4 separate regions of the Homo sapiens genome follow, and all the other regions are linked to region 2. The links come from fine-mapping of genetic effects on gene expression. A gene starts in region 2. Each other region holds a variant in brackets. All regions are shown on one strand. Distances are from middle to middle.

Region 1 (8,193 bases), 130 kb after region 2:
CAAGGCTCATTTACAAAGCCTGGCTGCATGGTTTCACTGTGGAATTTTCTTCTTTTATCAGGCTAAAATTGTTAATTTCCACTTGCCTTAGTTTCCTCATCGAAAAGAGAATGGCATTTAAGATCCTAGGAGTGTCACAAATATTAATAAAATGTGTTTTTTTCTAGTGAGTTTTGTTAGAGAGGTTCACGGTTGTATATTGTAATGTTAACTGTAGGGTTCCCAGTGTTATTTCTAGCATCTGACTCAGTTCAGCAGGACTCCATGTGATATGGTGACACCTTATACTATACCCACCGTGACACTGTTTTCGTTCATTCCTTAAGGTATTCATGAATTTTTCAAGTTTATAGAATGCTAATATACTTTAGAATGCAAAATAATGGTTTGAGAAATTTTAACAGGAGGTGGCAATTATTATTTTTGTAAAAAACTGAGATAACTACATATATTACACATATTATATATACAAATATATAATAATTCTGTTTCCCAGTGAAATGGAAAAATTGTCTATATTACAACTGGAAAAACATTGCTGTGTCAATCTAATCTAAGCCTAAGTTTTCCTAACAGAATCTAATGAGTCTTGGTTCTGTATTTGTTTTCAAAGGTTTTCTCTATACAAGAGCACAGATACTAGCTGTTCCTCCCCTGTCCCTCTCCCCGCCCCTCTTTTTTTTTTCAGGGATGTGGTACGAAGCAGCAGAGTTAATATGGGCCTCCATTGTAGGATATTTGGCACTTCCTCAGCCGGATAAAAAGGTGGTTTGTCTAGTGCTTCTTTTTCTCCTTTCCTGTATTTGTCTTTGGATGATTATCTCTTCATGACAGAAGTCCATTTCTCATATATCAATTTCATCTGTCCTATTTTTATTTATTTTTCACAAGCATAGGGCCAGGTACAGTTAGTAGCTTCCTTATGTGTCTTGCTTCATCCTCACTCACAGCTAGACTCTTGGTGCATAGATGGTGTTCTTATAATCATTTGTAACTGTCCATTTATATATTTATCTCTACTGGTCCATTCATTTATCTGTTTTGTTATATATTTACTCTTTACTTGATTGCATAGCAAAGTTGAGATGACCAAGTTGCTTATATGTAAAATCAGTTTTCTTGAGTTGAGTGGGCGAAGACTTCAACTGTTTATATAGCACCTTTATTCAAGAAATTGAGGAAGGTCATCTGCCTTCCTACTTGACATTTTCATTTTCTGGAATTCTGTGGGAATAGTCTCATTATCTGAAACATCTGGTTATTACATTTCCCTGAGCTGTGTAAGCAATTACTGTCTACGATTCTTTTACAATACAGACTGATATGAGCTCTTCCTTGGGCCAGTTATTCAGGCCTAGCAGTAGGGACAAGTTAGTATTGATCATCCAGTGAAACCCAACTGAGAAGTAGCTGTGTTTACATTAGGCCCATGTGCCCTAGGATGTGTTGATCCTTCAAGCTCTGTGGCAGCCAATTTAAAAATATCTCCAAGTCAGGGTATTAATTATTACACAATGTATATATATGTCAAAATGTCACATTGTATCCCATAAACATGTATAATTATTATATACATGTTTGATATAAAACATGTATTTTTAAAAATAGTATTTTTAAAAATAGTATTTTTAAAAATTGATTTTTAAAAATAGTATCTCCAATGTCATAGTAATAAAATATTAATAGGCAAATAGTTCATATGGAGGAATAATCATAGCCTTTAGGCCATGGATGAGAGCAGTAATCCACTGTGAATTCCCGATCTGTGACTTCTTTGTGTTTTTCTTACAGGGCCTCTCCACGTCGCTAGGTATACTGGCAGACATCTTTGTTTCCATGAGCAAGAACGATTATGAAAAGTTTAAAAACAATCCACAAATTAATTTGGTAATTATCATAACACTGAGTGGCATCACCTGTAAAATTGTCAATCGTGTCCTTGGTGGTTGGTTAGTGGCTGTCTTTCTCAGGAGATTGGGAGGCAGGGAGCTCAGTGCTGCGCCTCCTAGACAAATGGGAGGAATCCTGGGGAGGAGTCTTGTGGGGTCCTATTTGGCTTTATTATCCCAGCGCCTAGCACTGTAACAGACACTCAGAGAGTGCTCAGAAAGTTACTGGTGAATGAATGAATGAATATCAACAAAATGATTTTGAGCCTCACTTCTTTCCTTTCAAAGTATAACAAAATGCAGTTTCCAAACTTGGGCCATCTTGATGATAAAGGGGTAATAATTTTAAAACTTTGTAATCACCATCTGTTCAAATCAGAGCATCAGTCCCTTGTTCCAGGCTCTCGTCCTTGATAATAATGACTGCTAATTTTTATATATCACTTTACAACTCAAGAAAGTATATATATATCCAATAAAACCCTATGAGGAGGGTAGAGCAAAGTGTATCATTCCATTTTAGAGAAAAATAAAATGCAGTGCAGAGAAACTAACTAACCTCTGCAGTTTACACAACCAGTAAGAGAGAGAACTGGGAGCTGAGCCCAGATCTCTGACCAGCCCAGAGAAGTGACAAGGATGTTCTGCTGCTCTTCACACTGTGCTTAAATGGAGTTTTTATTATCGTCTATATTGCCATTTTTATTCAAGACCCCATTATTAAAGATACCATTAAATCACAACAGTAACCATGCTCAATACTAATTAGTGTAGCAAAAGAACACATACAGCTTGCTGATGGTAATCTGAATCTAAGATGTTGCTTTTTCTGTTTGACCAAAACAGGAGGATCATGTCCCTTGTTCACTGAAGTTATCCCTGATGACCGTTTAAAATTGCAAACTTCCTTCCCATCCTGGGCCTCCCTAACCCCTTCTCCATTTATTGTCTCTCCAGAACACTTGTCATAATCTCAAATACTATGCACTTTACTTGTTTTGTATATTGACTGGTCCCTCCCCCACAACAGAAAGTAAGCTCCTTGAGGGCTCACTGTCTGCTGTTTCCCCTGTGTCTAGAACAGGCCCTGGAATGTGGTGGTACTCTATACGTATTTACAGAATTAATAAATGAATTCTAATTGCTGTGAAATCATCAATTAAAGGGCTCTTTGCCAAGAGCGTGCAGAAATCAATTAATCTGGCTTCAAAATGTGCAGTTCCTTTGAACAAAGAACTGCCACCGTCCTCCAAAGAAGCTCACCCAAATTATTTTGCACAGGTGTGTGTCTGCTGGGAAAAAGGAAAGTCAACACCTTGTGGTCTTTAGACCCACTTACTCTTTCTTTACACTGTTCTGAACGGGTTGCGGTGAGGAGTCCCTTGAAATCATGAAAGAAAAGCAAAACCATTTCATAGCCTGTTTTTTGCTCATCGATAATTAATTATCACCATTCCACTTAGCCTCCTGTTTTCTCACAGAGCCTGCTGAAGGAGTTTGACCACCATTTGCTGTCCGCTGCAGAAGCCTGCAAGCTGGCAGCTGCCTTCAGTGCCTATACGCCGCTCTTCGTGCTCACAGCTGTGGTAAA[C/T]GAATGCAGCCGCTCCTCAAACCCCCACAGGACCTCTCCCAGGGTGCTTTCTGATGTAACCAGTGAGAAGGGAAAGGTTTAACCTTCAAACAGGCTTTGTGTCTCATCAGTGGCAATTGTGATAAGACTCCACACCACATATGGAAAAATTTTATTGGTCGGAGTTTTGACAGCCTACTAGGAGCTAAATTAATTCAGCCCAAGGGTAGATTGTTGTCTGTTGTGAAGCAATGGTTCCCAAGCCTGAGTGCACATCAAAATCACCCAAGGAACCTTCTCAAAATACATATTCCTGCCAGGCATGGTGGCTCACGCCTGTAATCCCATCACTTTGGGAGGCCAAGGTAGGAGGATGGCTTGAGCCCAAAATTTCAAGACTAGCCTGAGCAACATGGTGAGACTTTGTCTCTACAAAAAATTAAAAAATAAAAATTGGCCAGGTGTGGTGGTACGTGCCTATAGTCCCAGGTACTGGGGAGGCTGAGGTGGGAGGATCACCTGAGCCTGGAAGGTTGAGTTTGCAGTGAGCTGAGATTGCACCACTGCACTCCACCCTGGGTAACAGAGCAAGACCCTACCTCAAAAAAAAAAAAAAAGAAAAGAAAAGAGAAAAAGAAAAAGAAAAAAAAAAGAAAGAAAAAAATACTACACATTTCTGAGCTCCACCCTAGATCCACTAAATGCAAATCTCTGAGGTTGGTATCCAAAAATCTTTAATTTTGGAATATTGTCCAGGTGATTCAAATGCACAGATGCATTCGGAAACCAATGCCCTATTGTTTCGACATTAAATGAATGATGTATTCATATATGGCATCCTTATTTGCATAGAGAAACTTATATCCATTTCCATGGATAGACTCTGTTAAAACTAACAACAGCAACAAACACAAGCCTATCGTCTTTAATCAAAATGTATCAAAGATACAATAGGATGGTAATTGAAGCTGATTTCTTACCCCTTCATGCCAGCCAGTCACTTATATCCCCATCCCTTCTTCTGATTCACCAAAAAGGCCTCGGGTCCTTAACTCAATGTTTGCCTGTATATTTTCCTTAGAATGTATGTGGCATGTGTTCATTTTTCTATAATATTTCAAATGACTGTCCTCCAGAAATGAAAAGTTTGTCCTGATTCACTTGCAGTTTTCAATTCAATATCTGATTTGGTATTTGGTATTTTTCCCAGAATATCCGTGGCACGTGTTTATTGTCCTACAGTAGTTCAAATGACTGTCCTCCAGAATTGAAAAACTTACATCTGTGTGAAGCCAAAGAGGCCTTTGAGATTGGCCTCCTCACCAAGAGAGATGATGAGCCTGTTACTGGAAAACAGGAGCTTCACAGCTTTGTCAAAGCTGCTTTCGGTCTCACCACAGTGCACAGAAGGCTCCATGGGGAGACAGGGACGGTCCATGCAGCAAGTCAGCTCTGTAAGGAAGCAATGGGGAAGCTGTACAATTTCAGCACTTCCTCCAGAAGTCAGGACAGAGAAGCTCTGTCTCAAGAAGTTATGTCTGTGATTGCCCAGGTGAAGGAACATTTACAAGTTCAAAGCTTCTCAAATGTAGATGACAGATCTTATGTTCCCGAGAGTTTCGAGTGCAGGTTGGATAAACTTATCTTGCATGGGCAAGGGGATTTCCAAAAAATCCTTGACACCTATTCACAGCACCATACTTCGGTGTGTGAAGTATTTGAAAGTGATTGTGGAAACAACAAAAATGAACAGAAAGATGCAAAAACAGGAGTCTGCATCACTGCTCTAAAAACAGAAATAAAAAACATAGATACTGTGAGTACTACTCAAGAAAAGCCACATTGTCAAAGAGACACAGGAATATCTTCCTCCCTAATGGGTAAGAATGTTCAGAGGGAACTCAGAAGGGGAGGAAGGAGAAACTGGACCCATTCTGATGCATTTCGAGTCTCCTTGGATCAAGATGTGGAGACTGAGACTGAGCCATCGGACTACAGCAATGGTGAGGGAGCTGTTTTCAACAAGTCTCTGAGTGGCAGCCAGACTTCCAGTGCTTGGAGCAACTTATCAGGGTTTAGTTCCTCTGCAAGCTGGGAGGAAGTGAATTATCACGTTGACGACAGGTCAGCCAGAAAAGAGCCTGGCAAAGAACATCTGGTGGACACTCAGTGTTCCACTGCCTTGTCTGAGGAGCTAGAGAATGACAGGGAAGGCAGAGCTATGCATTCATTGCATTCACAGCTTCATGATCTCTCTCTTCAGGAACCCAACAATGACAATTTGGAGCCTTCTCAAAATCAGCCACAGCAACAGATGCCCTTGACACCCTTCTCGCCTCATAATACCCCAGGCATTTTCTTGGCCCCTGGTGCAGGGCTTCTAGAAGGAGCTCCAGAAGGTATCCAGGAAGTCAGAAATATGGGACCCAGAAATACTTCTGCTCACTCCAGACCCTCATATCGTTCTGCTTCTTGGTCTTCTGATTCTGGTAGGCCCAAGAATATGGGCACACATCCTTCAGTCCAAAAAGAAGAAGCCTTTGAAATAATTGTTGAGTTTCCAGAAACCAACTGCGATGTCAAAGACAGGCAGGGGAAAGAGCAGGGAGAAGAAATTAGTGAAAGAGGCGCAGGCCCTACATTTAAAGCTAGTCCCTCCTGGGTTGACCCAGAAGGAGAAACAGCAGAAAGCACTGAAGATGCACCCTTAGACTTTCACAGGGTCCTGCACAATTCTCTGGGAAACATTTCCATGCTGCCATGTAGCTCCTTCACCCCTAATTGGCCTGTTCAAAATCCTGACTCCAGAAAAAGTGGTGGCCCAGTCGCAGAGCAGGGCATCGACCCTGATGCCTCCACAGTGGATGAGGAGGGGCAACTGCTCGACAGCATGGATGTTCCCTGCACAAATGGGCACGGCTCTCATAGACTGTGCATTCTGAGACAGCCGCCTGGTCAGAGGGCGGAGACCCCCAATTCCTCTGTAAGCGGTAACATCCTCTTCCCTGTCCTCAGCGAGGACTGCACTACCACAGAGGAAGGAAATCAGCCTGGAAACATGCTAAACTGCAGCCAGAACTCCAGCTCATCCTCAGTGTGGTGGCTGAAATCACCTGCATTTTCCAGTGGTTCTTCTGAGGGGGACAGCCCTTGGTCCTATCTGAATTCCAGTGGGAGTTCTTGGGTTTCATTGCCGGGAAAGATGAGGAAAGAGATCCTTGAGGCTCGCACCTTGCAACCTGATGACTTTGAAAAGCTGTTGGCAGGAGTGAGGCATGATTGGCTGTTTCAGAGACTAGAGAATACGGGGGTTTTTAAGCCCAGTCAACTCCACCGAGCACATAGTAAGTACAATCTTTTCAATAGTTCCCCCCTCAGGAAGCAGCTGTGTTGGGGCACTCTGAAGAGCTTGGTATGTAGATCACTTAAAGCTCATGAAAGGTATAGAACCCTGGTATGCTTTGTGAGTTCACAGAGAAATGTATACTTCAGGGGTCTCCCTCACTCTGTGCGATGGACCTTAATGGTTGTAAAGAAGCTTGCTCAGGCTACCTTGCATGCTGGAGGTTTGCTCTAAGGACACACGAGGTAGTGAGGGAGACAGGAAACTTAGAGGACTCTGGCACAGCCATCACTAAGGGTTGAAAACAGCTCTGGAGGCCGTCTCATCCACTCAGCATCTATCTTCTTCATTGATTCTCATTACCAATCAGGTGATTTTAACAGGCTGGATACCATATTATCTGCTCAGCATCTATCTTCTCCTTCGAGTCTTTTTACCAACCAACTGATTTTTCTCTATCTTTCCCCATTAGAATTCTATGGGGACATGGTTTGACCTAGTTAAATATCATCTTTCTATTGGGCAGAGACTTTTTACACCTGTCTACCTAAGCGGTTTCTTGCCAGCCAATTGGTTGGTCAAGTGCATCCTCATCTTGTATTCATGATTCTGTAACAAAATGCCATCAACTGGGTAGCATATGAACAACAGAAATTTATTCCTCATAATTCTGGAGCCTGGAAGTCCAGGATGAAGGTACTGCTTTCTGGTTCATTGACAGCGCCTTTTCTCTGTGTCCTCACATAGTGGAAGGGGGAAGGGTTTCTCTGGGATCTCTTTTATGAGGGCACTCATCCCATCTATGAGGAATCTACCCCTCAGGACCTAATCACCTCCCAAAGTCTCCAGCTCCCAACACCATCACCTTGTGGGTTAGAACTTCAACATGTGAATTTAGGGGGGATAAAAACTTCCAGACTACAGTACCCCTACTGTTGCAATCAGCAGCTACTTCTTGCTTAAGGAACAGCCCAATGTCACTGCCCAAAGCGGGAAGCCTGGGCTGGAGCCACCTAGTAGTCAATGTCTAACACAGCTTAAAAGTGGTAGAGAAGCTGGGAGGAAGACAGAAGGAGATTCTTCTCTTAGCCCAGGAATCACATCAAAATGCCCTCCTACTATACAGAAAAATGATTTGAATGATTAAAAAAACAAAAAGATTGTGAAGCACTTCCCAGAAGAGATAAACTACATGGATCACTAAGCACTGGCTATTAAATAGTAGTTCTCAACCCTGGCGCCACATGAGACTCTTCTGGGGAGCTTTTAAAAACTTCCAATGCCTCACCCCAGAGATTTCCATCTAATGGGTCTGGAGTGCGGACCCAGGGATCATTATTTCTTATCACCTCTCTGGTGATTCTGCTTAAAGCCACTGTTAAGAGCTTCTG
Region 2 (8,193 bases):
CTTCCACCTCTGTGGCCTTCTTTCTATCCTGTACATTCCCCTTTGGTAATATCTAACTACAATTATAGTTTTTTGACTGCCTCTAAGTCATTTACCCATATTTCTGTGTCTCTCACCCAGGCCTGTGATTCTATTTCCTAAATATTTCTTTCCCTTCCTTTTTATTCCATTGCTACTGCCATTAATTAAGGCTAGTCATCACTTCTCTCTACAATACTGCAGTACTCTTCTAACTCATTTTCCTAATTCCAGTCTTGCCTCCTAATCCACCCACCACCAGGATCCCTCCCTTGCATGAACCTTGCTCCATACTCCAACCTTCCCACAACAGTAAGTATTCTTTCTAAAACAGTTTTATGATTTTACATTCTTTGAAATTTTCTGTTTTCTGTTGTTTTTTTTTTTCTTGAGATGGAGTCTTGCTCTGTTGCCCAGGCTGGAGTGCAGTGGCGCAATCTTGCCTCACTGCAACCTCCACCTCCCGGGTTCAAGAAATTCTCTGCCTCAGCCTCCCAAGTAGCTGTGACTACAGGCATCCGCCACCACGCCCAGCTAATTTTTGTATTTTTAGTAGAGACAAGGTTTCACCATCTTGGCCAGGCTGGTCTTGAACTCCTGACCTCGTGATCCGCCCGCCTCGGCCTCTCAGAGTGCTGGGATTACAGGCGTGAGCCACCACGCCTGGCCCAAATTTTCTATGTTGTCAATATAAATATCCAAACTCCTTAAAATGAAACACAAAGACCTCCTATTATGAGCCAACTCTTGCCAATTTTTTCCAACTAATTTCTGGCCACATCACTACTAATCCATCAGTCACTGTGATTGCCTTAAGTGCATTGCTTGTGTGCACAGTCTGAATCTGTAGCACCAATGTAGCACTTGACACAAAAGATTCCCTAAACATGTTATTGAGATGAACGAATGATGTCAGCTTGTATCAGCATTTTATATTTTATATTCAAGATGATAAATCCTAGAAAATCAAAATGAGTATGATGCTGCAGCCAGTTTTCCTGCGTGTCATAATGTATTCCTTATATAGGTGTACATCTCAATCACTTAAAATAGTTGAAATTTGTGTAATGAAACTTCCATCTTTGAAATCTTACTAAAACTCACCACTGGATTATAAATGAGCCATTTTGTCTTTGTGTTTTACATGACTCTAAGGATCTTACCAGGAATCCCTGTTGAAGACAATCTGACTGTTGTCCAAACTGTAAGAAAGATAATATCTCCTATGAGATCCCTCCTCTTCTATCAGTGCCATTGCCTTTCTCTCCATACTCAGGTGTACAGTGCCCTTTTTTAGGCTCTGAAATGTACAGCCCTTCATCCTAAACACTGTATTTCCAACATTTTTGCTCCCCTACCCCCAAATAGAATTTTGCAAAGACAATAATTCCTTCACATAAAGTCGATATTCATCTTTCATTATAACTTTAGATACAAAGGGTCTAAATCTGACGTTGAATAAACATAACTCATACATTACTCTTTTAAATGTATCCAACACAAATTTTATATCCTAGTGATTTGATGTTCCCCATCATCCATTTAAAAACGCATGTACAGGCTGGGCGCAGTGGCTCACTCCCATAGTCCCAACACTTTGGGAGGCTGAGATGGGTAGATCACTTGAGCCCAGGAGTTCGAGACCAGTCTGGACAACATGGAGAAACACTGTCTTTACAAAAAACAAACAAACAAAAAAACAAAAACAAAAATTAGCCAGGTGTGATGGTGTACACCTGTGGTCCCAGCTACCTGGGAGGCTGAAGCAGGAGGATCACTTGAGACCAGGAGGTCAAGGCTGCAGTGAGCTGTGATTGTGCCACTGCATTCCAGCCCAGGTGACAGCCCTATCTCAAAAAAGTTTAAAATTTAAAAAATTTAAAAATAAAGACACATGTACAAATCTTTTTTAACAATTGGAAATTTTATATCATTCCTGTATTTCCGTAACCTTCTGTTTCATTTCACTTCATCCATAGAAGTTTATCCTAGTATAAAACAGTTTATATACTTGAAAGTTTTTGTCATATTTCTTTACAGTAAAAATATGTAGGCCGGGTGCAGTGGCTCAAGCCTGTAATCCCAGCACTTTGGGAAGCGAAGGCAGGCAGATCACCAGAGGTCAGGAGTTCGAGACCAGCCTGGCCGATATGGTGAAACCCTGTCTCTACTAAAATACAAAAATTAGCTGGGCGTGGTGGCGGGTGCCTGTAGTCCCAGTTACTTGGGAAGCTGAGGCAGGAGAATCGCTTGAACCCAGGAGGCAGAGGTTGCAGTGAACAGAGATCATGCCACTGCACTCCAGCCTGGGCAACATGTCTCTCAAAAAAAGTATATATTGAAATTAAACCTTTCTGGCTGGGTGTGGTGGCTCACACCTGTAATCCCAGTGCTTTGGGAGGCCGAGGCAGACAGACCTGAGGTCAGGAGTTCGAGACCAGCCTGGCCAACATGGTGAAGCCCCACCTCTACTAAAAATACAAAAAATTAGCTGGGCGTGCTGGCAGGCACCTGTAATCCCAGCTACTCGGAAGGCTGAGGCAGGAGAATCGTTTGAACCCAGGAGGCAGAGGCTGCAGCGAGCCGAGATTGTGCCACTGCACCCCAGCCTGGGCAACAAGAGCGAAACTCCATCTCAAAAAAAAAAAAAAAAATAGAAAAGAAAAAAGAAATTAAACATTTCTGTTTTCTGTGACCATAGACTCTAAGTATTAAACTTTCTTAAAGATTGAATTGTACAAGTATTGATTCATAATTGATGAAGAAGACAAAAATAAAATGGTACGTTTTGATGAATATTAAGTGATAAAATTTATTCAAGTGTCACTTCTCCATAAGATTTCTGGAGTTTTAAAAAATTAATTCACAGCTGAATGTTACTTATAGTTGGAATAAAACAACATTCCACAAAAATATACACATGGAAGAGGAGAGGAACTGTGTTTACATAAATAAATAGAGATAGAATTTTGTTATAGCAATGCCATTTGGTTATTTAAACTTCTAAGGTCATATATTAAACATTACATAGCGATCTATCACACAAAAAAAATGTGTTTTAAGTGATCGAGCAACTGACTATTCAACTATTTCCTCCTATTTTGTTGTAAACAATTGACTTGCCAAAGCATTTATGACCCAGCTTTTGGAGTCCTTCACTCTCTCAGTTTCTAGGAAGTATACCAAAGGCTTTACCAAAATGTATCAAATGACTATTAATAAAACCTATTATTCCTTCACTCTAGAGGAAACTTCTTTAACCCAGCAGGCTCAAAAAGGATTGAGAAAATTAAAATATTGTTTATGTCAATAACTTTTCCAATAAAATATATTTTGACATTTAGAAATCTTAGGTACTTTTGATTTTTTTGTCAAAATTTCGAGTTGCAGATTTCAGTTGTTCCATGGAAGGACAATGTCCACTGTGTAACTCAATAAGACACTTTTCACTGTCAAACTAGTCAGCCTAATCAGATATTCTATCCAAAAAGTCCTAACTTTATTTTCCAGTTCAGCAATATATGTGTCTCTGTGATAACAAGCTCACTTCTAAGACAGAGCACAGAATGAAGCCTTAATGTGCATCTGTCTTTTGCTAACAGATTTCAACAATGTCATATTCATTGTTTCTTACTGACATTCTCTCTTCTTGGCTCTAAGAGGACTCTCCATTCTTAGTCTAAATAATAAGTTTTTCTTGCACTTTCATTAGGAGAAGGAACTTTTCTGTAGTAATACAGCTCCCAGAATACCTTTCACCGAAGCAATTCCTAAAGGGGTGTGTCTTATGGTGCAAGATTGCTGAAAGTCCCGGAATTGAATTACACAACCATATTCTGAGACAGTCACAGGATTGGTTGTTTTTTTTTTTTTAATTCCTACTTCCTGAAACTGAAGCCGTTTATGAGAAACAGTGTGTTTCAGAGAGGCTGTACCAGAATTAACTCTGCTCAGAGTTAGATTTGCTGGTCTTAAAGTACTTTTCCTCTTTAAGATAAAAGTGAGTATCATCCTTTAAATGACAAAACGCAGTAGATGGCATAATATATGAGGAAGTATTTGTCTTAAGTGTTGACTCAGTTTCCATCTGCTGATCTTGTTTATATTTAAATAACTTTAGAGCTCTAAGAACCTTTGCACTTCTATAATAGAAACTTTCCAGAAAGGGGAGGATGAGTTGGTGGGGTGAAGGGGGTGGAGTGGGGAAGGGGAGGGAGAGAAGGGAAAAGTTACCTACAATGGTAAACTGTAGTCATTATGAAGGGGAGAAGGCAAACCAGTTTTTCATAAGGTTTTAATAACAAGTTTCTTAAGTCACTGAGCTTCTGGTCTTGTCACTTAACTGAGATGTTTAATTAAAGGATTGTTAGGATTATTTGTTTAAAAAAAAACTCTATGACTTTTGCCTGGAATACATAGGTAATAATAGAAACTACCACTTTTATGACAGCATCAGTAATTTTGCTAGGAAACAGGTAGATAAGGCACGAGACTTACTCGTCTCATATGGGTGAATTGACGGGAATTCTGAGTGCGTGGAAGCATTGTTTAGAGACAAAGCATCCAGAAAAATTAAATTCCTTTGCATGTCTATTTAGAAAAATCCTTTAATTAAAAAATTCTAGTGTTTGAAATTAGTACTTTAGAGTACTTTGAAAAGCCACAAATTAAAACCTTTAAGATGGTTTGGGATTTGAGGATGGGTGAGGGTACAAACAGGCAGGATCAGGAAGGAGAGGACTTTATGCCACAATATAATAGCATCTCTGCTTGCGATATATATTTCTCTCTCTCTCTGTCTCTCTCTCTCTCCCTTTTACTTTCTTTTTACTTTGTGCCACTAATTCTCTTATAAGAAACAATATCCATTTAATTTGGGGTATAATTTATGCACTTGGGATACACTCTAGTCTCTAGAACCAATGTCAAGTCCAGTCCTTGTCTGCTGACCGAAACAATTTACTTCTCTCTTCCCACCTCCTTCCCACCCCATCAACCTCAAGCCTCAAGAGAAACAAAATACTTAAACTTATTTTAGAAATAACTTATTCCCCATATCAAAGATCTTTTAAATCTGAGATGAATCTCTCAAATTTCTTCCGCCAAGAAGACACCAAAATTGTATAGCATCTCTATCTGCATGAGTAGGAAGCCAATAATTACTTTAAACTTTTCAAAATCTATTTTAAACTGTAAAGAAAAGGCATGTGTAAATTATGATGGATATTAGGCATTATCATATATAATAATACTGTGATGAGCTTTGCTGATGTGTTAAGCTGTAACAATACCTCCCAGCAAGTGCCATGTGATCTAGGTTTGGATTTAGAGCCTGAAGTTTTCCTTAAGAATAAGTTTGTGCATTTCAAGATATTTCTGAAATTCCATGGCTCCTTCTATTCCAAACAATTTTACTGATCCCTTTCCCATGAACACAAGGCATGAATTGCTTTTATTATTCTCTAATCTATTGCAGAGAATGATGGCTTTTTGGCATAAGCTGTTCATTGTAAATGATTTTCTTTCTTGAAATTTTGAATATCTATGGATTGAAGAACTCTTAAAGGAATGAGCATTTAAACTTTTGGTGAAAATATATTCCATATTTTTGTTTTTTTTGTATTTTGTATTGTATTTGTTGCCTCTCTATATGGGGGAGTCTTTGTTTCTTGTTATTGATGGTGACAACTGTTTTTGCAGAATGTTGTAATATGCTTTATTTATAGAGAACTGTGGGATAGACAAACTTAAAAGAAAGAATATTATCTGGTGCTATCATTCTTCTATGTCTGAAGAAAAGAAGAGATGATTATAACTTAAATATCAGATACATACAAATACAACTTTTCCTAAGTATGGTATACATGCTACTGATTTTAGGCAGTACATGTCTAAACTTCAAAATTTTGAGTTATTTGCTAGCTTAATATAAATTAACATAATTTGCTTATAAAACCTAGAATTTCATGAATACTGTTGTTCAGGAAAGTGTTAAGTAAGAAGTTGAGCTAATTTACTATTGATTTTAAGGAAATGATTAAATAAATAATATTACAGGTAATCTGCAGATTTGGCAAAAATTATGAAGATGGCATGCAAATGGCTAAAGTTTCAGACATGCTACACTAATGCATTTGAGAAGTGGATATTTTCTTAGCCAGTGCAGTATCTTTGAATTTTACTGGGCCTTGGTTACAGAGCTCAGTTGACAATGCAATCTGTTCAATTTCCTAAGTATAGATGTACAAAGTATTTGACAGAGAAATATTTTATCAAACGTTTATCACACCTGTAGCCTAATAAACTATTATATTTCCTCGTAAATTATCATATAATTGAAGGGATGCAGAAGATAGCCAATACTTTTTCAAATAAGAGTGATAGAAAGGGTGAAATGTCTCAGCTTGAATACTACAGGTTCATTCTGCTTGTTTCACTGAACTTCTGAACTCAGGGGCCAGGGGGGACTTTAAACATTATCTAGATCAAGGGCTACTAATGGGTCATAGTATGTGCCAATGGCTATATGCAATAATTTCATTTCTGGGAATCCATCCTAAGGGGGAAATAATTCTAGACAAGGGAAAAATTCGCAAACATGTTCATCATAAAGTCGTAATAACAAATAATTGCAAGCATTCTCATAAAAGGGGGAGGTTAAGCAAAAGATACTGTACCCATAAAACATGATAGGATAAAAAATAGTACCAGCACAGAAAATACTAAGTGAAAAACAGACTCAGGATTGAATAACTTGTATGCATGCAAGTATTTACATAAAATGGTATAGATATAAATTCAGAAATATTCTAAAAGTGATTGTTGTCTTACAGTGATAGATTCTTTCCCTTCCTTCTATTTCTTTCTACATAACATGATATTCTTACAAAAAATTTTTAAATTATTATATAATATACTTATATCTTTTTTGAGAAAACAAATATAGTTTATTAAATAGAACTATATTGCTAATAATATATAGTAAATAAAACTATGCAGCTTTGGAAGATAAAAGTTTTTCCTTCTTTTTATTTGGCATACAAATAACCAGCTATGTGAAAGAAGAGAGGACGGAGTCTCAGTGCTAGGAACAAACAGGTGCAGCGGAGTCAGTGAACAGAGAAGGAAATACCAGTTGAAACACTTACTATTGGTTCATTTTTCTTGTGTTGATTGCTTCTCTGTCAACTGTAGCTTTTACTTCAGTCTAATAATTCTTTTGGCTTAAAGATAAAAAAAAAAAAGGCAGGGAAGGGGGAATGGAAATTTGGCCTGACCTGTGTGCAAATAACCTCTTAACTCATTTCTTGTTCTTATGGATTTCCATATTTTGGATTTAGTAATTTATATCTGCACATATTGTACTTATATTCAATTTTGTCATGTCTTTGTATATACTCCTACTGCACCTCAAAATGCACTGTGTCATTGGCTCACCAGCACTGCTTTGACCTTAACCCCAGCACATCTGGTTACTGTGGTGCATTCTCCATCAGTGCATAATATGCACCCAAAATATCTGCAGAATTGCCAGCAAAAGCCTTGTCCATTCATAATTACCTTTTTTTCTACAAAAAAAAAATTTAGAACCTCATCATGTGTCCTTTTAGTTGGCATTTCTTCACAGTAACTTCAGCTCTAATTAAAGTTTGGACACTGCTGGTCAGCCCGTCATCATTTTCCAAGATAACTATATCATTACCGAGAAATTTTCTTCCCTGAGGTCATGCCCCAAATAATTATTGTGAAAGATAATAAACTGTAAGTGGTAACATCTCTTTTGATATATTAATGTATTAGGTTTGACATACACTTCTGAAGATTGCAGGTTACTCAATAAGCAACATTTGAAGACCTTTGAGCCCAGATTTCCTGTTACTCTAAACCTACCCTCTTCCTTGGGACATGAGAAACTTGGTTTAGGCTTCTGAAGGCGCAGCTTGCCAGGGCAGCTCAGCAACTGTTAGAAGCGCCCTTACTGTGTTAATTCCATGCTATACAGACTCCTGCACCATTATGTAGATAAGGTTAGGCTCTCCTTCTAGCTTTCTGCTCTTTCTAGCTCTCTGTGGGGTCTTCTTGGGGCACATCCCTTGAATATATTTTCACTCAGTAAAGTGACCTCTGATCACCTTATTCCCAAGCACATGTTCTCACCAGAATGTTCAACAAGCA
Region 3 (8,193 bases), 90 kb after region 2:
GCGTTGCTTTTTACCCACATTCTCTCGGAAGATTGTCAAGGAAGAAAGCTTGCTAATTTATATATATATATATATTTTCTCAAATAAAAAATATATTTGTTAGGCATTAAAGCATGACAATATCCTAAAATTTTTACTTTATTGCTTTACGTAAGATTGTATTTTTGAGTCATCCCAAAATAAATATATAGACATTGTCTTTGCCCATTCAAGCAAAAATCTAAGAAAGACCCCCTGATCTATAGACACACAAGAGCATCTTTAGAGACTTAATAGAAACAGTAAAACCCCAGCTCTCTCATCCTCCTAAAAAACAAACAAAACAGGTTAAGCAGACTGGGGATTGCAAGCAAAGGAAAGTGAATGCTTAAGGAGAACACAATGGTGAGCCAGGGTTTTAAATAAATGTGGTCAGTATTAGTGGAAAAGTAGAATAAAATAATAACTATAACTTAACTATCACTATAGAGTTTACAAAGTGCTTGTAACACTTTACAGAGTGATTCAGATGCTCTTTGACTTACAAAGGAGTTGCCCCCAGTAAATCCATCATAAGTTGGAAATATAATAGGTCAAAAATATTATACATTAAAAATGCATTTACTACACCCAACCTACTAAACATCATAGCTTAGCTTAGCCTACCTTAAGCAAGCTCAGAACCCTTACATTAGTGTACAGTTGGGCAAAATCATCTAATATAATGCCTATTTTGTAATAAGGTATTGAATATTTTGTGTAATTTAGTGAATACTGTGCTGCAAGCGAAAAACAGAATGGTTGTAGTCTACTAAATGTATATTGCTTTCACACCATTGTAAAGTAAAAAAATCATAAGTTGAACAATTGTTAAGTTGGGGTTCTCCTGTATTACCATTATCATCCCTCTTTTGAACAAGGAAATTAAGGTGCGAAGAGATTAATTTGCTCAGGGGAAGAACAGACCAGTAAGTGGTGAAATTGTGACTTACAGCCTTCTCCTTCATCCAACTCCAATTCTCCATCAGGAAGCACCAAGTGAAGAGCTTGAAAAAACAGGTAGAAGCCATGAGGTTTACTTATTGTATCTAAAGTAAGCTGTAGGCCATCCAGTAACACTTTTTGTATTGATGATGGAAATGTTCTACAGCTGTGTTCAATATGGTAGCCACTAGCTACAGATGGCTCTCAAGCACTTGAAATGTGGTGAATGGGACCGAAGAACTGAATTTTTATTTTAGCTATTTTTTATTCATTTCTATGTAAATAGTCACATGTGGCCAGGGCTGCCATTTTATTGGACAGTGCAGCTCTAAAGCAGTGGCTATAAATGTGAGACCTCCCAACAATAGATTAGCATCATCTGAAATCTGGTCAGAAATTCAAATTCTTGGGTGCAAATCAAAAACCCTTACTGAATCAAACACCCTGGGGGTGGGAGTCCAGCAATCAGCATTAGAGAAGCCCTCCAGATGATTCTGATGCTAAAGTTTGAGAGCCACTGTTTGCAGGAAAGAGTAGAGTGGCAAGCAAGGGGGAAGGGCAGAGAGACTGAATGGGGATATAGTGGAGAGGGTCAAGGTAAGGAGTAAGGAGAATCCAGTGAGAAGGCTGTAGGAGACCAATCCAATAAAAAAAAATCTCTTTTCCATCAATTCTGGGAACTGTTGCTTAGACTGGAGCCCTTCTGCAAAAGCTGATGGTCACTTTACTTGCTTGGAGATCCCTTGTGGAATTAGCCTAGTGGCATAAAAGAACTTTACAAACCTTCCAAGGAAGGCGAGAGCAAAACGGCCTCACAAGAGGGAGTGACTCAGCTTTGACTTTTGGGCTTAGCAGGTTTCTCTGACTTTTGAACATAGGCTGAGTGATGTGGCACATCACTATAACTGGGGTTTACTCCCCTTGTTCCATCCTGCAATCACCAGATCCCCTGAGCCCTGCATTCAAAGCTGGTAGTGACATTAGCTTAAAAACTGAAAACGATGTTTTAAACATCATTAAAAACATCAGTCCCGCTGCACTGGGGGTTTAATGTGAGTTGGGAGAGAAGCTGCTCATAGTTGGAGTAGACTATTTTAAGAGCCCACTTATGATACCTCCCGCTATGCCTCTCTATACTACACAAATTTCACAATTGGAGAAATAGAAGCATAGAGAATTTAAGAAGTTTGAGCCCAGCTCACAAGGTCACTCAGTAGCAGCTCTAAGGGGCGCTGTCTATTAGGCCTTCTTTAGTCTCTAATGTATTTAATCTGGCAGCTTTTTGAACTCTGAGCATCATTTTCTTTAGCTTGCCCAGCAAGCTATAAATTAAGCAACCGCACCTCCTAATGACTTTTAGGATGTTCTCCTATTGTGCCAGACCCCAAGTGCACAATTGCTAAACCACTCTGTTTTGTAAATATGGAGAACCATAGCACCCTGTAAGTCAGGCACTCCTAAAATCTATTTTTAATATCTTAGATTATTAAAAATAGTTTGAATAAATTCCATGATTTGTTTTTGTTTCATTGTATCCCAATCTGGTCGATTTCAATATTAGAGTTTGTCAGAGCTGGATGGTCATATTTTAATAACTGATTAATTGTGAAATTCCATTCTCATGTAAAAAATATTTAAAGATTACTGAGTTTGTCTTTTCATGTTTTCTCTCTTTTTATAGTTTATTCATAAATATAAACTTTCTGTGATTTTTTTACCTTGAAATGAATCCTTCCCATAAAATGTTTCCCCTCTGTTTTTCAAATAAGCATTGTACTCAGAGCATAAACACTGTGTCTTTAATTCCACAAATAACAGATCGAAGTTGAGAACAGAATGCTTAAGAAAAAGGCAAGTCACAAACAACTGTTTTCCACAGTTCATGAGTTGGTAAAATTAAGAGTCATTTATAATGTTATTCTCTTGGGCTGAACTTAACCAAGAAAAATGATACATGTTTTGTGTTTTGCTTTCTGGTCTCCACTGTGTTCCCATTTCCTCCCTCCCCACTGCTCTCCTCCCCTCCTCCCTGACTCTCCAATCCCTTTTCCTTTGGTGTGTGGCCACAGACAGAAATTTATGGCAGGGGCCAACCTCCTTTACACTCCACACAAAGCTTGCTGACTTGAGAGAGTTTGTCCGCGCTCTCCCAGAAAAAACACCTGCAGTACGCTCCCCAAGAAACCTGAAGAGATGGGAGATTAATGTGGCTGTAATAGCTGGGCAGTGTTTTTGGTATTATGCCCTCTCCCTAGGTAGATGGGTCTTTTCCGAGATGATACCAATTATTTATTGCTGAAACATCTGTTGATAACTGCAGCTGCCCTTGTAAAACAAAGCATATCACGGGGTCACAGGCTACGGCGACCTAAAATCCTACCTCATGCTAGTTTCAGTCTATTCAGCAACACCCTCAAGTCCATGGGTTACCATCATCTTTAATGTCTCATCGTGCCATAGAAAATACTTTGTAAACACCGAGCTGCCCTGCCCTATAGGCTTTGAAGTATTATTTCATCTTCATCGGTAATTTATATTCCAGCACCATTGTACTGTGGGAAAAAGAGGGGGAACCTTTTTTGTTTTCCATTTAATTGTATATCGCCTGACACTTTGACCTGTATTATTAGTATTAGTCAGAAAAAGGATTTTCTCCCTCTCTTATTTAAAAATAAAATTTCAAGGGAAAGTAAGCGCTCCTTCAGCTCTTTTCACTCAAAACAATGTTTACACTCTGAGAGGGAAAGATGAAAAGCATGAGCAACTTTTTTCAAGTGTCGGAGAAGGGCATTTCAGTCTGTGAAAGAGAACAGTAAGGCCCTTATAAATATCATTCAGCAAAACCTTTGATGGATTTTTCAAAAAGTATTGAAGGCATTTAGCGTTAGCTTCTGTTTAGCTCAGCTTTGGGCCATGGCGGTGGAGTGCTAGCTAGGAAAACCCATAGAATGCTAACTTGCTGCTGAGATGCCGGGGAAGGACTCAACGTGGATGCCACCTTGGGAATTTTTCTTTCTGTAGTTTTCACTCTTCTAAACAACAACAAAAAATGTCTAGTGAATTAAAATAAAATATGAAAGTAAAGCTTTCAAAAAGTAAAGTAAAGGGTGTGTTTGGATTTGCAAGTGGGAGCAGAT[T/C]GGGCTGCAAGGCCAAGAGCTGTGTGATAGCCCTGAGTTTGAACATTCCCTGCACAGGTTTGGGGGTCCTGATGCTGGAGGGAGACTGGCTTATTTCTGTGGAGGGAGGGGCCTGCTGTCAGTCAGCCCTGGATTTACTGTGGTGCCCACTCACGGAGATACAAGATCATTTTTATAGGTTGGCACTAAAAGCACAGTCTGAGGACATGAAGCAGGCTCAGAAGGAGGATATTCTTTTTCCCATGTCCTTTTCAACTCTACAACCATGAAAAATGGGTAATCTGATAGCCCTGATGTTGTAAATATTTTTGGAAAGTGTCTGTGGTGCCCTGGAGTGATTTGAAAAGACACCATAATAATAATAATAATAAATGTTGAGTTGTTTCTTTATGCTATTTTGTGGAAAACCCCTGTGGATGAATAAAGTTTGATCAATTTAGTCCCAATAATTTTTTTAACTTTTATTTTAAGTTCAGGGCTACACATGCAGGTTTGTTATGTAGGTAAACTTGTGTCACAGGGGTTTGTTGTACAGAGTATTTTGTCACCCAAGTACTAAGCCTAGTACCCATTAGTTATTTTTCCTGATACTCTCTCTCCTCCCATCATCCACCTTCCAATAGGCCCCAGTGTGTTGTTCCCTTCTAAGTGTCCATGAGTTCTCATCATTTAGCTCCCACTTAGAGTGAGAACATGCGGTATTTGGTTTTCTGTTCCTGTGTTACTTTGCTAGGGATAATGGCCTCCAGCTCCATCTGTGTTCCTGCAAAAGACATGCTCTCATTCTTTTTTATGGCTGCATAGTCAGAATATTTTTTCTAATATGTCTCTTTGTATTATCTTGGTGCCTTTGACTTGTTGATATTTTTGTTTTTATACTACTTAAGATGTTAGAGGGGTGAGATTTAAAACATGAATAAACATGAATAAATATAAGAGTTGGTTATTGCAAGATTGCAGAAAATGCTTTAAAAATGCCTAGTGTGACTAACTCGTGAGCTCAGGGGATGGAGGAGAGACTTTAGCAAAAGAAAGCAAAGTATGAATTTATTAGGAAATGAAATATCAAGTTAAAGAAAGTTATGGAAACAATAAAATTCCCTCCATGAATAAGCTCTTGATTAAAAGATGTCCTTAAAACTAATTTTAAAACATTTATTCCAGGTGCCGGTTTTTATATTAGTAATACAGAATTCAAAAGCAGTAACAGGTGCTGTTTAGATTATGATTCTTTCATCATTTTTCATCTTATATGCTTTGGGGCTTTCATAGCAGAAATCTTTTTCATCAAGTTGCAAAAAAAAAAAAAAACACAAAGTGTAGATAAACTCTGCATTCATTCATTCAACAAACTTTACTGGGTGTCAGCATGTGCCAGATGTTTGACAGAACACTCAAAGAAGTGCAGAAGAAAGAGAAGACCCAATTCATGTCCTGGAAAACTACAAAAATGAAGACAGAGGGCAACCCTTGTCAAAGTCCAGCTTATTGGAATGGTTCTTCCCATGTATTGACCTCCTAATATGTGGCAGTTGCTCAATCTATGTTCTTTAAGCTATGACGACAACCCTTAAAGAGAAGGGTTATAATTCCCTTTTCACAGTTAAGAAAATTAATGCTCAGAGAAGTAACTTTTCAAAGTCACAATCTGAACTCCCCATCTCTTTATGGACAGCTCTGTTCTTTCCATTCAGGGGCACACAAGGAGGGCCATGCTGGCTTTTTTTTTTTTTTTTAGACAGCATCTCGCTCTGTTGTCCAGGCTGGAGTGCAATGGCGTGATCTCGGCTCACTGCTGCCTCCACCTCCCGGATTCAAGCGATTCTCCTGCCTCAGCCTCCTGAGTAGCTGGGACTACAGGCACGCACCACCACTCCCAGCCAATTTTTGTATTTTTAGTAGAGACAGGGTTTCACCATGTTGGCCAGGATGAGCTCAATCTCCTGACCTTGTGATCCGCCTGCCTCAGCCTAACCAAAGTGCTGAGATTACAAGCGTGAGCCACCGTGCCTGGCCTGTGCTGGCTTTTAAGATGTTGAGATACCAGGGGTTGGTCACAGCCATGGCCAGGGGCCTGATTGCTCCTACTCTTGCCCTGACTAATTCAGGAACCTCTGGATCTTGTCATGATCTGAAAATGAAAGTTTGTCTCAGAAAGAACCTTGCTCCAGCCAAATGTCTGGTGTCTCTAAGGCTGCAACAATTGTATTTTGTTTAGGTCCCCTAGATAAGATAGCAAATCAGGAGAATGGAGCATGAGGAAGGGAGCTGAGCTACTTGTCAAAGGCAGAAGAGCATGTGGTGACCGGTTGGACAGACGGGGTGGGCACTAAGTATAAGATTTCAGTCTTGCAATGTGCTGGGCAGTGATGCCTTTACCTGAGACAGCACAGGAGGGGAAGCTGGCATGTGCTTCTTGGATGTCTTACAGACATCTGAAACTCATGGTCCCTCTCTTCCCTGCTCTCAAATAAGGTCCCCTTTCAGGGTCCAGTAGAATAAGCTGGGAACTTCAAGGTCATTCTTGTCACTTTCCTCTCCCTTGCCTGACATATCCATTCCATCACCAAGCTTAGTAGGTCTTATTTTCTAAATCTCTCCTCAATTCCCCTCCACCCCATCACTACTCCTGTTCCAGCTGCAGCTATATCTCACCTGGGCTCCTGCCATTGCTTCCTGAATAGCCTCACACATCTACCCCACTTCACTCCTCCACATCTCTTCTCCATGCACAGAGGTGTTTGTGCAAACTACAACTCTAGTCTGTCACCCTAGTATGCCTAGGAATGCAAAACTCTGAAATGAGGCCCATGGGCCCTGCCAGGCATAGTCCTTCCCTTGGCTGCCCCTGCTGCATCATCTCCATCTCATGGCCTCCTTTCAGTCCACACTCTTACCGGGATTATTCCATGCACATAGCTGCTCTCCATTCCCGAGACATTCTTCCCTCCCTCCTTTGCCTGATTAATTTCTGTGTATCTTTCCCTTCTCAGCTCACATCTCAGTTCTCAGGGAAGCCTGCCCTGATCTCTGGGACTAAATCAAACTTCCTCAATATAGGCTTGGCTATAAGGTATCACCTTTTCAAAGTTGCAGTTTACATTTGTTTGTGGGGTTTCTTTTACATTTGTTTACATTTGTTTGTGGGGTTTCTGTCTCTCTCTTCTGCTAGCTACAAGCTTCATGAGGTCAGGGCCTTATCTGTGTTCACCATTATATCCCTGACACTTAAAATGCATACCTTCAAAGAACACCCTTGGATGGATGGATGATGGATGGATGGGTGGATGGATGGATGAATGAAACCGTATTAATGTTATTTGAAAAACATGGTGTTTGATGTGCATGTGTGTTGAAATATATATGAGGCTGCCCCATGTGTGGCCCACAGTCAGACAATTGTCTAGGTACTGGTCAGGAGGATAATGCCCATGTATCTCTCAGGGATGGAAGGCATTTAAGTAAATGCCTTAAATGTTTCCTGATAAAGAAATGAAGTAATCACCTGAAGAAGATAATGCTATTTGTTGTGCATATTATAAATTGGAGTGGGGAGATCCTGAGTTTGGGGAGCACACTGAACTGCCAAGGAAAGAATGATTATGTGAGGTCCTGCATAAACGTTAGGCTTGAGAGAAGTGGAAAGAGGAAGCATATCTAAGAGACATTATGAAAAACAACCTAAGGTATGTCATGATTCATGGAATGAGCTAGACTGAGGTAGATTGTATTATTGTTCCCACATATTCACTTTTGCCATGTGACTTGCATGCCTCCCTCTGAAAGGAATATACCTTCCCATGGAGATATTAGGCTAGGCCCTCACAACCTGTCTTAGTCTATGAAATGTGGCTGGAAGTGACATATGCCAGTCCCTAGCAGAAGATTTATGAGCCGTTGTGTTGTTCAGCAATTGGAAGTTTTCCTTTGCCTTGTGAACAAGGTAGGGGCTACTCCCTCAACCTGAGAAGGGCAACAAATGTTGAAGAGAGTGTCAGTGTTACAGCCAAACTGCAGGCCATAAAAAGTATGGACAACAATTGCCAAAACAATTTTGTCATTAAAGGCAATTAAATTTTAGCATTATCACAGT
Region 4 (8,193 bases), 46 kb after region 2:
TTAGCACTTGATCCTAATCAAAGGACCAAAAATACTTGGTTATAGTTCATTTTAATCTTAGTTGAAAAGATTGTGGATAGACACTTAGGAAAAAGTGAAATCAGCATAATATCGTCTCTTCAAGTGCAGTCCAGCTTTCAGAATGGTAACTTGGATTTCGGCCTCCTTGTAATTCTCCCTGATGAAAACAGAAGGATTTCACAGCACAGAAAGCAGTGGTTTATGAGTCTGGGTATGGACAGACACACAAGAGAACTCTGTTCATCGTCTTCAAAGTGATGCAGCGATGGCAAGACTGCTGCTGTGGCCACATGTAATATAGCCTGTAGCTCTTTAAAGAGGATTAGCCTTAGTGCGCTGGGAGCATTCAATGCTGGATTTCATGTAGAGCAGAATATGCTAATGAAATGTAAATGTCTACGGCAAACATTGCGTAATATAGAAAACCTTCAAAACTGAGCTTTGTCTCTTGCACGGTGGGAAACCAAACTTTATTACATCAGAAAAAAGTAAAAAAGAAATAACCTTATACTTTTCTGTCCTATGTATCTGCTTCTAAAAAAAAGTGAAGTTAAATGCATACACATACGTATTTATACTTAAATTAAATTTCAATGTTATTAGAAAAAGTAATTTCAGTCACTCAAAAATCTCTTACTAGATCTATGCCCTTGGGTGGATGTAAAATCATTTATCTCTGAAGAAAAAAATACACATAATATGGATTTTCTTAAACACTGTTATTAAGATTACAAAGGGCTTACAGAGTAGATTCCCCCCTCAACCCTTTTCACCTGAAAATTTCTTATTTGTGATTTCCACTTTGTGCGTGAGCAATGTCCTTCTACTCAATGTTGGGAAATGCTACATCTTCATAATTTTCCACATAGTGCTTTTACTACTTCATAGGAAGTCGGTATGAGATTTGATCAGTTTTTTAAAACTGCACATGCACTTAGTTAAGATATCAAAGTTATTTTCATTTTAGTATTAGAATTTCAGAACGCATTTGGTATTAGGAAAGTGAATTCACTGTAAGATGTGTGATTTGCAGTCCATGTAATGATGTGTAGCATCTTTGAATTCACGCACGTGGTTCCCAAAGATTGAAAGCCCCCTAAAGATTTTATCTCAATTGCTGGGAAATAAAGATCCCAGCAAACACATGGAACTGGGTGCTTAGTTACTAGCATTTCCCTACACTCAACCAAGTAGCTTAGGTTCTCTTGGTTTTTGTTGGTCGGTGGTGTGTGTGTCTGTGTGCGTGTGTGTTTTATATCTCAGTTTTGAAGGGTTTGTCTCTGTAGACATAGAGGGATGGTAATACATATTCATGAAAGCGTGTTCTTTCCAGTCCCTGTTAACACTGACAAAGCCTTAGCTGTTTCACACAGCAAGCTGACTGGGATTGTGTGTGGGGGCTGCATGGCCAGATTAGTGCAAACAGCAAGCCCACTCTGCTGCTCGTTAGGCCTTGCCTTCCTGACAATTTCCCCAATTGTCGCTTGTGACAAGGCTGTCATTAGGTGATGGCTTCTTTTGGCCATTTTCAGATAAAGATAATTTCCTTAACTTCCATTTTATTTGACAACAGGCAGTTTGGGAGAGAAAGGAAGTGCTTCAGTAGTATATAGATTAGGGTTTTGTCACTTCAAAGCCATCTTTGATCTAAAAATATGTGCTGTACCAAATTCATTATGTCTTTTTTTAAAGAGCTTTTAAATTTATTGATCTTCTCCTCAATTATTCTCCTTTTACGTCCAATAATGATGTGCGAGATGGTAGTGTTGGGCAAAGCCTAAGGAGGAGTGTGGGGTGAATGCAGCCAACTGGTCACTTCTGAGGTCATTACAAGAACGAAACAACAGGTGCTTTTGTTTAGTGTTGATTCTTTTCTGAATCCCTGTGTGGACAAAGGCTTCTCTTCTATTTATTGCTCAACATAATGATATCGGTGCCAAGAGAATAAGACAAAATTACGTTTGGTATTACAGCATAATAAGTCATAGCGTGTACAAAAATTGTGCCTACAGTTGCTTTCACCCTCACCTTTGAGGCCACAGGTTTCTCCAGCCAGCGCAGGAGTTCTGTGGAGAAAGAGCAAGAGACTTCTTTGTTGACCAACAATTTGACTTCCTCTAGAAGCAAGCTTACATTGTGCTGAAACTCAGCTTGCCAAAGTTCTTAGAATTGAATCATTAAAAAAATCATACAGAGAAGAAGAGAATAAGAATTCCTGTGTGAAAATGTACTTTAAAAATAGCACTATGAGCATTTATGGCTTAGACAGTAGGCCACTTGTTTAGAAGGTCCACTTGTCCTCCTTTTGTTGTTGTTGCTGTTGTACACAATGGTTGTGTGGAATTACTATGTTTTAAACAACACCTAGGACAAAGGGGTGTACAGTTTACATCCAAACTATCATGATTAGCAATTGTCTCCTAAAACTTCACATGTAATAACCAATTTAGGACAGAACAAGCTACTCATTTCCACTCCTGCAATTAGGAAAAGGAGGTGAAAATAAACACCTTAATTTCATTTTTTTGGTCTAAATGTTATGTTACTTGCCTCTTGATAGTCTACTTTATAATTTAGAATGATCTAGATGCTTTTGATATTTACTATTTTAGCAAAGAATTTCAAAATCTTATATATTAAAGAAAATATGTAATTTTAAAGCATGACCTCAGGCTCCTAAAAGCAATGACAATTGCTTCTTTTGAAAAATCACTTTTCTGAATTTTCAAAAGCTAGTATAACACAATGCCTTTCATTTTGCCTAACTAGTTTAGAGGTCTAGGACTCTATCCATGGACCTTCAATCCACAGTAAATTCTGGATAAAAACAGCCAGCATTTTCTATATGTCATGTACTTTTATCCTTACTAAGAAGTAGATACAATTGTTAGCTCAATTTTACAGATGAGAAAGTGAGACACAAAGACATTAAGCAACTTGCCCATTCTCTCATATTCCAGTAAATGTTAGAGCTAGAATTCAGACTTGGGTACTTTAGATCCAAAGCCTCTGCTCTTATTGCTGGGGCCCAGAATACATGGGACCTGGAATACCTACATACGCTTCTCCTGATTCCTCCTGGTACAGAACAAGTAAATGTTAGTTCTTCTCTCCCCTTCCATCCCTTCAGCTCCCCAGTCCTGGTCTCCTGCCCTACACAGTCCAAGCAAGTGGGCCAAGAGATTGCAGCAAAGGAGAGGGGCCAGAGAGGAATCTTATCTTCTGTCCTGGCTTCTCCAGTTTTCCTCCTGCCTGCACATTAAACACACAGGGACTGACGTGCTGAGACCTGGTAAATTCAGACAGTGGGGTTCACGGTTCATCGTATCCTTTGAAGGACTCCTCCACCACTTCATTCAAGATATCTGATGTCATTTCTCTTGACTTCGTTTTAACTAGAAAACCTTGATTTTGATTATTTTTTAATTTTTGGTGAAATCAGTAAATGCCATTTTGAAGAAAGAAAGAAGTAGACTATGAAGGAGA[G/A]TGTTTTGGGGAAAGATCTCTGTGTCGTCTTAGAGTTCACCTGCTTTGTGACTAGTGAATGCACTACAGAAACTGGCAGACAGCAACACCCTCAGCCTGCCTCGGAAGAGACAAAAGTAAATACCCGTCTCAAAGAGAATGCACTGAAATATGATATCAGCTGCAAGAGAGGGCCATCTCCTCCGGTCAAATGAGAAAAATCATATTATCCTCGCTGTGGTATACAAATAGCTTGTAAGCCACATTCTCCATTTGAATGATAACAATAAAGTGCTAACCTCGCTGCTGCAGGCCAGCCTGATCCCATCTCCAAACACAAACACTTCTGCCTGGGTTTTGGCTGGGGGTTGTGCTGTGGCCTCCCAACCCCCACCCTTTCCCCCCCTTCTCCCCCCTACCCCCGTTAATTGGCTGAGACCACCAGAATTTGGAGGACACAGATGTCACTGATAGTTTTCCTAGGGAGCACATTCATGCCCATCTGTTGCAGCCTAGAAGGCTGTTCATATATCCACAAGGCCTTCATTTAATTCTTGTCAGAAAGTAATGTAAATCCAGTTTACCTCAGAGGTCGCAGGCGAGATTTATGCCAATGAGCCCCCTGCAATTTACACACACTGTAGTTGTATAGGATGAAAAGAAAGCCTTTCATGTTGGTGCATATTAACAAGAAAGCCTGCCTTCCGAGAGAGGCTTTTTGATTGAGGTTTCTCCTGATTTTAATACAGCCGATGCCAGTTGGTATACCCAGCTTTAGAAAAGCGGGGAAAAAATCTAATCTTTAAACTGAAGTTTCTTCTTTTATAAGAAGTAAAAGAGAAAGAGTGAAATCCTAGCAAGTGGCACTGCCATGTCTTTAATTATCTCTTACTAGACAAAACTCCCTCGCACTTGGAGAAGACAGTGTGACAGGAGAGCACGTTCCAGCCTGAACTGCTGCGAGTGGAAGTCTAGGGAGAGCTCAGTTGTAAGCAATGATCTTTCCAATGTGAAAATAGTGGGACTGAACAGTTGAATTAGACTTCTGACTTTTTGTCTGTCTCTTTCTAGTATAGTTAAAGTATGGAGTTTGATAATTTGGATCAGGCTAGGTAGAAATTGATTCATCAGTAAATTGGAAGAAGACATATGTGATATATACATAGAAAATAATTCATAGAATTATCTTATTGGAAGTCTAAGAGCATTAAAAAGGACTTGGGTTACATCTTTCAATGTATTGATACATTTTGAAATATTCAGGACTGTGTAAGTAGGCTGGAAGGCAAATGGTTTTAAAAGCATTCATGGGGTCAAAGACTCCTGGAAATTCTGAATACACACCTTGTTTAGTATGTGACCTTGGGAAAGTTACTTAACCTCCATGACCCTCAACTTTCTCATCTCTAAAGTGGGGATCATAAAGCCAATATCACAAAGTTTTGTGTCTGAGGTGCACAGCATAGCACCTAAAGTACAGAAAGTATTTAACCAATAGCAATTTTCCCTCTCCACCTTGTCTTTTGGTGGTACCTGTGACAGCAAATTACAGATTTAAAATGTTAGTTAATTTGGTTCAAAACCTCTAAGCATTCAACTCACCAGACTACTTTTTCGTATTTAAAAAATGTTTAAAGATCAATGAAGTTGGAGATTTTCTTTCCCACTGTTTAGAATTTTTGTTGTCAGCTGTTTAATTTTTTAATTCTGTAGAAAGTAGAATAATAGAAGTGTGTTGGTTTCGGTAAAAGTAGGCATGGCTGCCATGCTCATTCAGAGTTGTAGCCTCTGATTTCCCAAGACAGTGTTAATAGGGGGCGTGCTTCTCGTGTTTTTATAGACAGTGCTCATTTACCCATACTAATGGCTTTGAAGTATATGGTATGATTATTTTTGCACCACATTTAACTTTTTGTTTGTATTTTGCTTAAGATAATATTAAAGTTCAGCTGTGATTTCTAAGTACATACTAACAGGACAATGAGGCACAGTAACCTAGAAGCATTACATGATGTGGATGTGGGTGGAATGGGGCCCTGATTAAAAATACAATGTGTTGTTGGCAACACAGTAAGCAGATACTCCAAATATGCATAATCTGGACTTAATTACAGAATTGGATAAAGCAGTAGCTTCATTTTGCAGAGTAGTGGTCATATTAGGGAGGCCGAAGCCCAATTTTGTTGGTTATCTAAACCAGGGAAGAGGAGATTTCAAATAATTTCAGAACGGTCTCTTGCTGCCTCTCAAAATTCATCAAGACCATTCCTTTTTGTTGGGGTCCTCAAAAGAGAATTTTTAAATTTTTTATTATTAAAAATTTCGAATATGTTGTTACAAAAGTAGAGGGAGCAATGTAAAAACTTCATGTACTCTTATGTAGCTTCAACATTTAATAGTCCATAGCCAACCTTGACTAATTTACATCTTTAATTTCTCCCCAGCTCCATGCCTCAAATTCTTTTGAAACAAATCTCAGACTCCATATAATTTCATTTCTAAGTATTTCAGAATGTATCCCTAAACGATATGAACTCTTGGAGTTTCACTCTTGTTGCCCAGGCTGGAGTGCAATGGTGCAATCTCGGCTCACTGCAACCTTTGTCTCCCGGGTTCAAGCAATTCTCCTGTCTCAGCCTCCTGAGTACCTGGGATTACAGGCGTGCGCTGCCATGCCAGGCTAATTTTGTATTTTTAGTAGAGATGGGGTTTCTCCATGTTGATCAGGCTGGTCTCGAACTCCCAACCTCAGGTGATCTGCCCACCTGGGCTTCCCAAAGTGCTGGGATTACAGGTGTGAGCCACCACGTCCAGCTGATATGAACTCTTTTTAAATATAACCACACTACTTTTATCCCACCTTAAAAATTAACACTAATTCTTTAATATCATTTATTATATCATATATTATCAGTCAGAAATCATGGGACTTTGAGTTTTAAGAAAGGAAATTCATTATTTGAGTCTCATATTACAAATTAGTTGTTTTGCTTCCATAACACAACAGTTTCATGAGGACTCTTAACGACATTCATTGTGGATTTATATGGTTGACACGTTTTGTGATATGTGGTAGTAACTTTTAGAATGAGAATGTGTCACCTTGTTGAAAAATAAAAATCACACCATCATTATGTTCCTACTCCATCTTCATTGATTCATTTGGATAAGTGTTTTCCAAACTTATTGGTGTCAATGAAATTGTATGTGGATGGCCATCATATAAAACAGATGGAAATGAAATTGCTCTGGGTCCATGATGCCAACCAGTCATTTGGCCTACTCTTTCCCCATGTGGGGCATTGCAGGTTTTGGTATGTGAAATGCTTTCTTAAGTATATACTATTTTCCCATTATGATTTCAGGGTAAGACAAATTGCTGTGTGAAACAGTTTTAAGAATAGAAGATTACACACATAGCCAACATCGAAAAACAAACAACAGTACAGTATTTACTTTTTAAGCTTCCTACCAGCAAAAATAATCTTTCACTTAAAGTAATTAAAATGTTTATTGTAATGGGAAGAGTCCACTGTGCTCATAAATAACGACCCCACTTCTCAGTTGACTACACTGGGGCCTCCTGGGAGGAGATGTATTTGCTTCCTGTCAGGATTAATCTATAAATGCAATCACCACTTAGACCTCATCAGTTCTTTTCTTCCCCTTCATTGGTCCTCTGGACTTATATTGTAGCTCGAATAAGGTCAAATTAGGATACTTTTTCCCCAGGAAAAATATAGCAGTAGCTGTTTCAGTGTTTTAAAATTTGAGAATCAAGCCTAAGAGTCGTGTCTTTAAATAAACTACATATACTTTTCTGTCATAGAATCAACATTCTGTTAAACTAATGATTTCTGCTTGTCAGTATGATGATCAGTTTCTTCCCCACAAAAAGCAGGACACAGAGTGGTCTCACATAAAACCACAGTGGCCTTAAAAGCTTATGTCTAACTTCTGGCACGTAATCTTAATGAGTTGCTATTTGAACTTTGACAAATCACTGAACTTTTGACTTAATCTTCAAATGGGAACCATATTCCTTGCTACCTTCCTCACTGTAATCTTATAAAAGTCATATCATCAACCCGATTCAATTTTCTTTGTCAAGATCTAATAATAAATACCTTTTCTTCTAAGTAGTATAATAGTAGGAAGGATGGAATGAATTCTCCAACTTTCCTAAATTTAAGTAAACTCATCCTGTGGGTCAGAATGTTGCTTTGGAATTTTTTACAAGTTGAATTATATAATTATGTTTACTTCTCGAATGAAGTTGTTTCTGTGGGTTGAAAATATCTCTTCTGTTTCTCTGGTAACCTTCCAAATACCAAATATGTATACAACAGATATTCAGTAAATGCTTAAATACCATTGAGAAGTTTACAGATACAGTGCATCTTATTTGATGCATTAAACTTCTAAGTTAGCTATGAAAGCCAAGCTTTAAGGAAAGAGCAGGAAGCAAGCAATTATTTTTTGCCAGTAATAGACTGTGTAAAAGCTAATATGTTTCACTTGCCTATTTCGATTTACTTATTTTTTAAAAATTTCCTGTATCACACTGTTAGCTCTATACTGGCAAATATTCCTTCATTAGCTAAAAGCAAAGAATAGAATTAACACTAAGTCTCAGATCGCCATCCTCCTTATTAGAGAAAGGAGAAAATGAGAGTTCTTCCGCTTGAAGAGGTACCAAAGAAAGTA

The links.
Region 1: its variant is fine-mapped to the expression of ALPK1 in whole blood (TOPMed, PIP above 0.99).
Region 3: its variant is fine-mapped to the expression of ALPK1 in whole blood (TOPMed, PIP 0.96).
Region 4: its variant is fine-mapped to the expression of ALPK1 in whole blood (INTERVAL, PIP 0.94).

The regions. Positions count from the first base shown.
Region 1 is chr4:112,425,779-112,433,971 of GRCh38, forward strand. It overlaps ALPK1 (alpha kinase 1), which reads left to right. Exons shown (of 16, transcript NM_025144.4): 8 at 689-765; 9 at 1,792-1,887; 10 at 3,371-3,475; 11 at 4,670-6,803. Among named protein-coding and RNA genes, the nearest start is that of NEUROG2-AS1, 86 kb to the right of the region's middle. The variant C/T (reference allele first, on the strand shown) is at 3,481.
Region 2 is chr4:112,293,452-112,301,644 of GRCh38, forward strand. ALPK1 (alpha kinase 1) reads left to right here and starts at 3,918. Exons shown (of 16, transcript NM_025144.4): 1 at 3,918-4,018. RefSeq lists an enhancer at 3,682-3,976.
Region 3 is chr4:112,383,228-112,391,420 of GRCh38, forward strand. All of the region lies in intron 4 of ALPK1 (alpha kinase 1), which reads left to right. Among named protein-coding and RNA genes, the nearest start is that of ALPK1, 90 kb to the left of the region's middle. The variant T/C (reference allele first, on the strand shown) is at 4,101.
Region 4 is chr4:112,339,861-112,348,053 of GRCh38, forward strand. All of the region lies in intron 2 of ALPK1 (alpha kinase 1), which reads left to right. Among named protein-coding and RNA genes, the nearest start is that of ALPK1, 47 kb to the left of the region's middle. The variant G/A (reference allele first, on the strand shown) is at 3,508.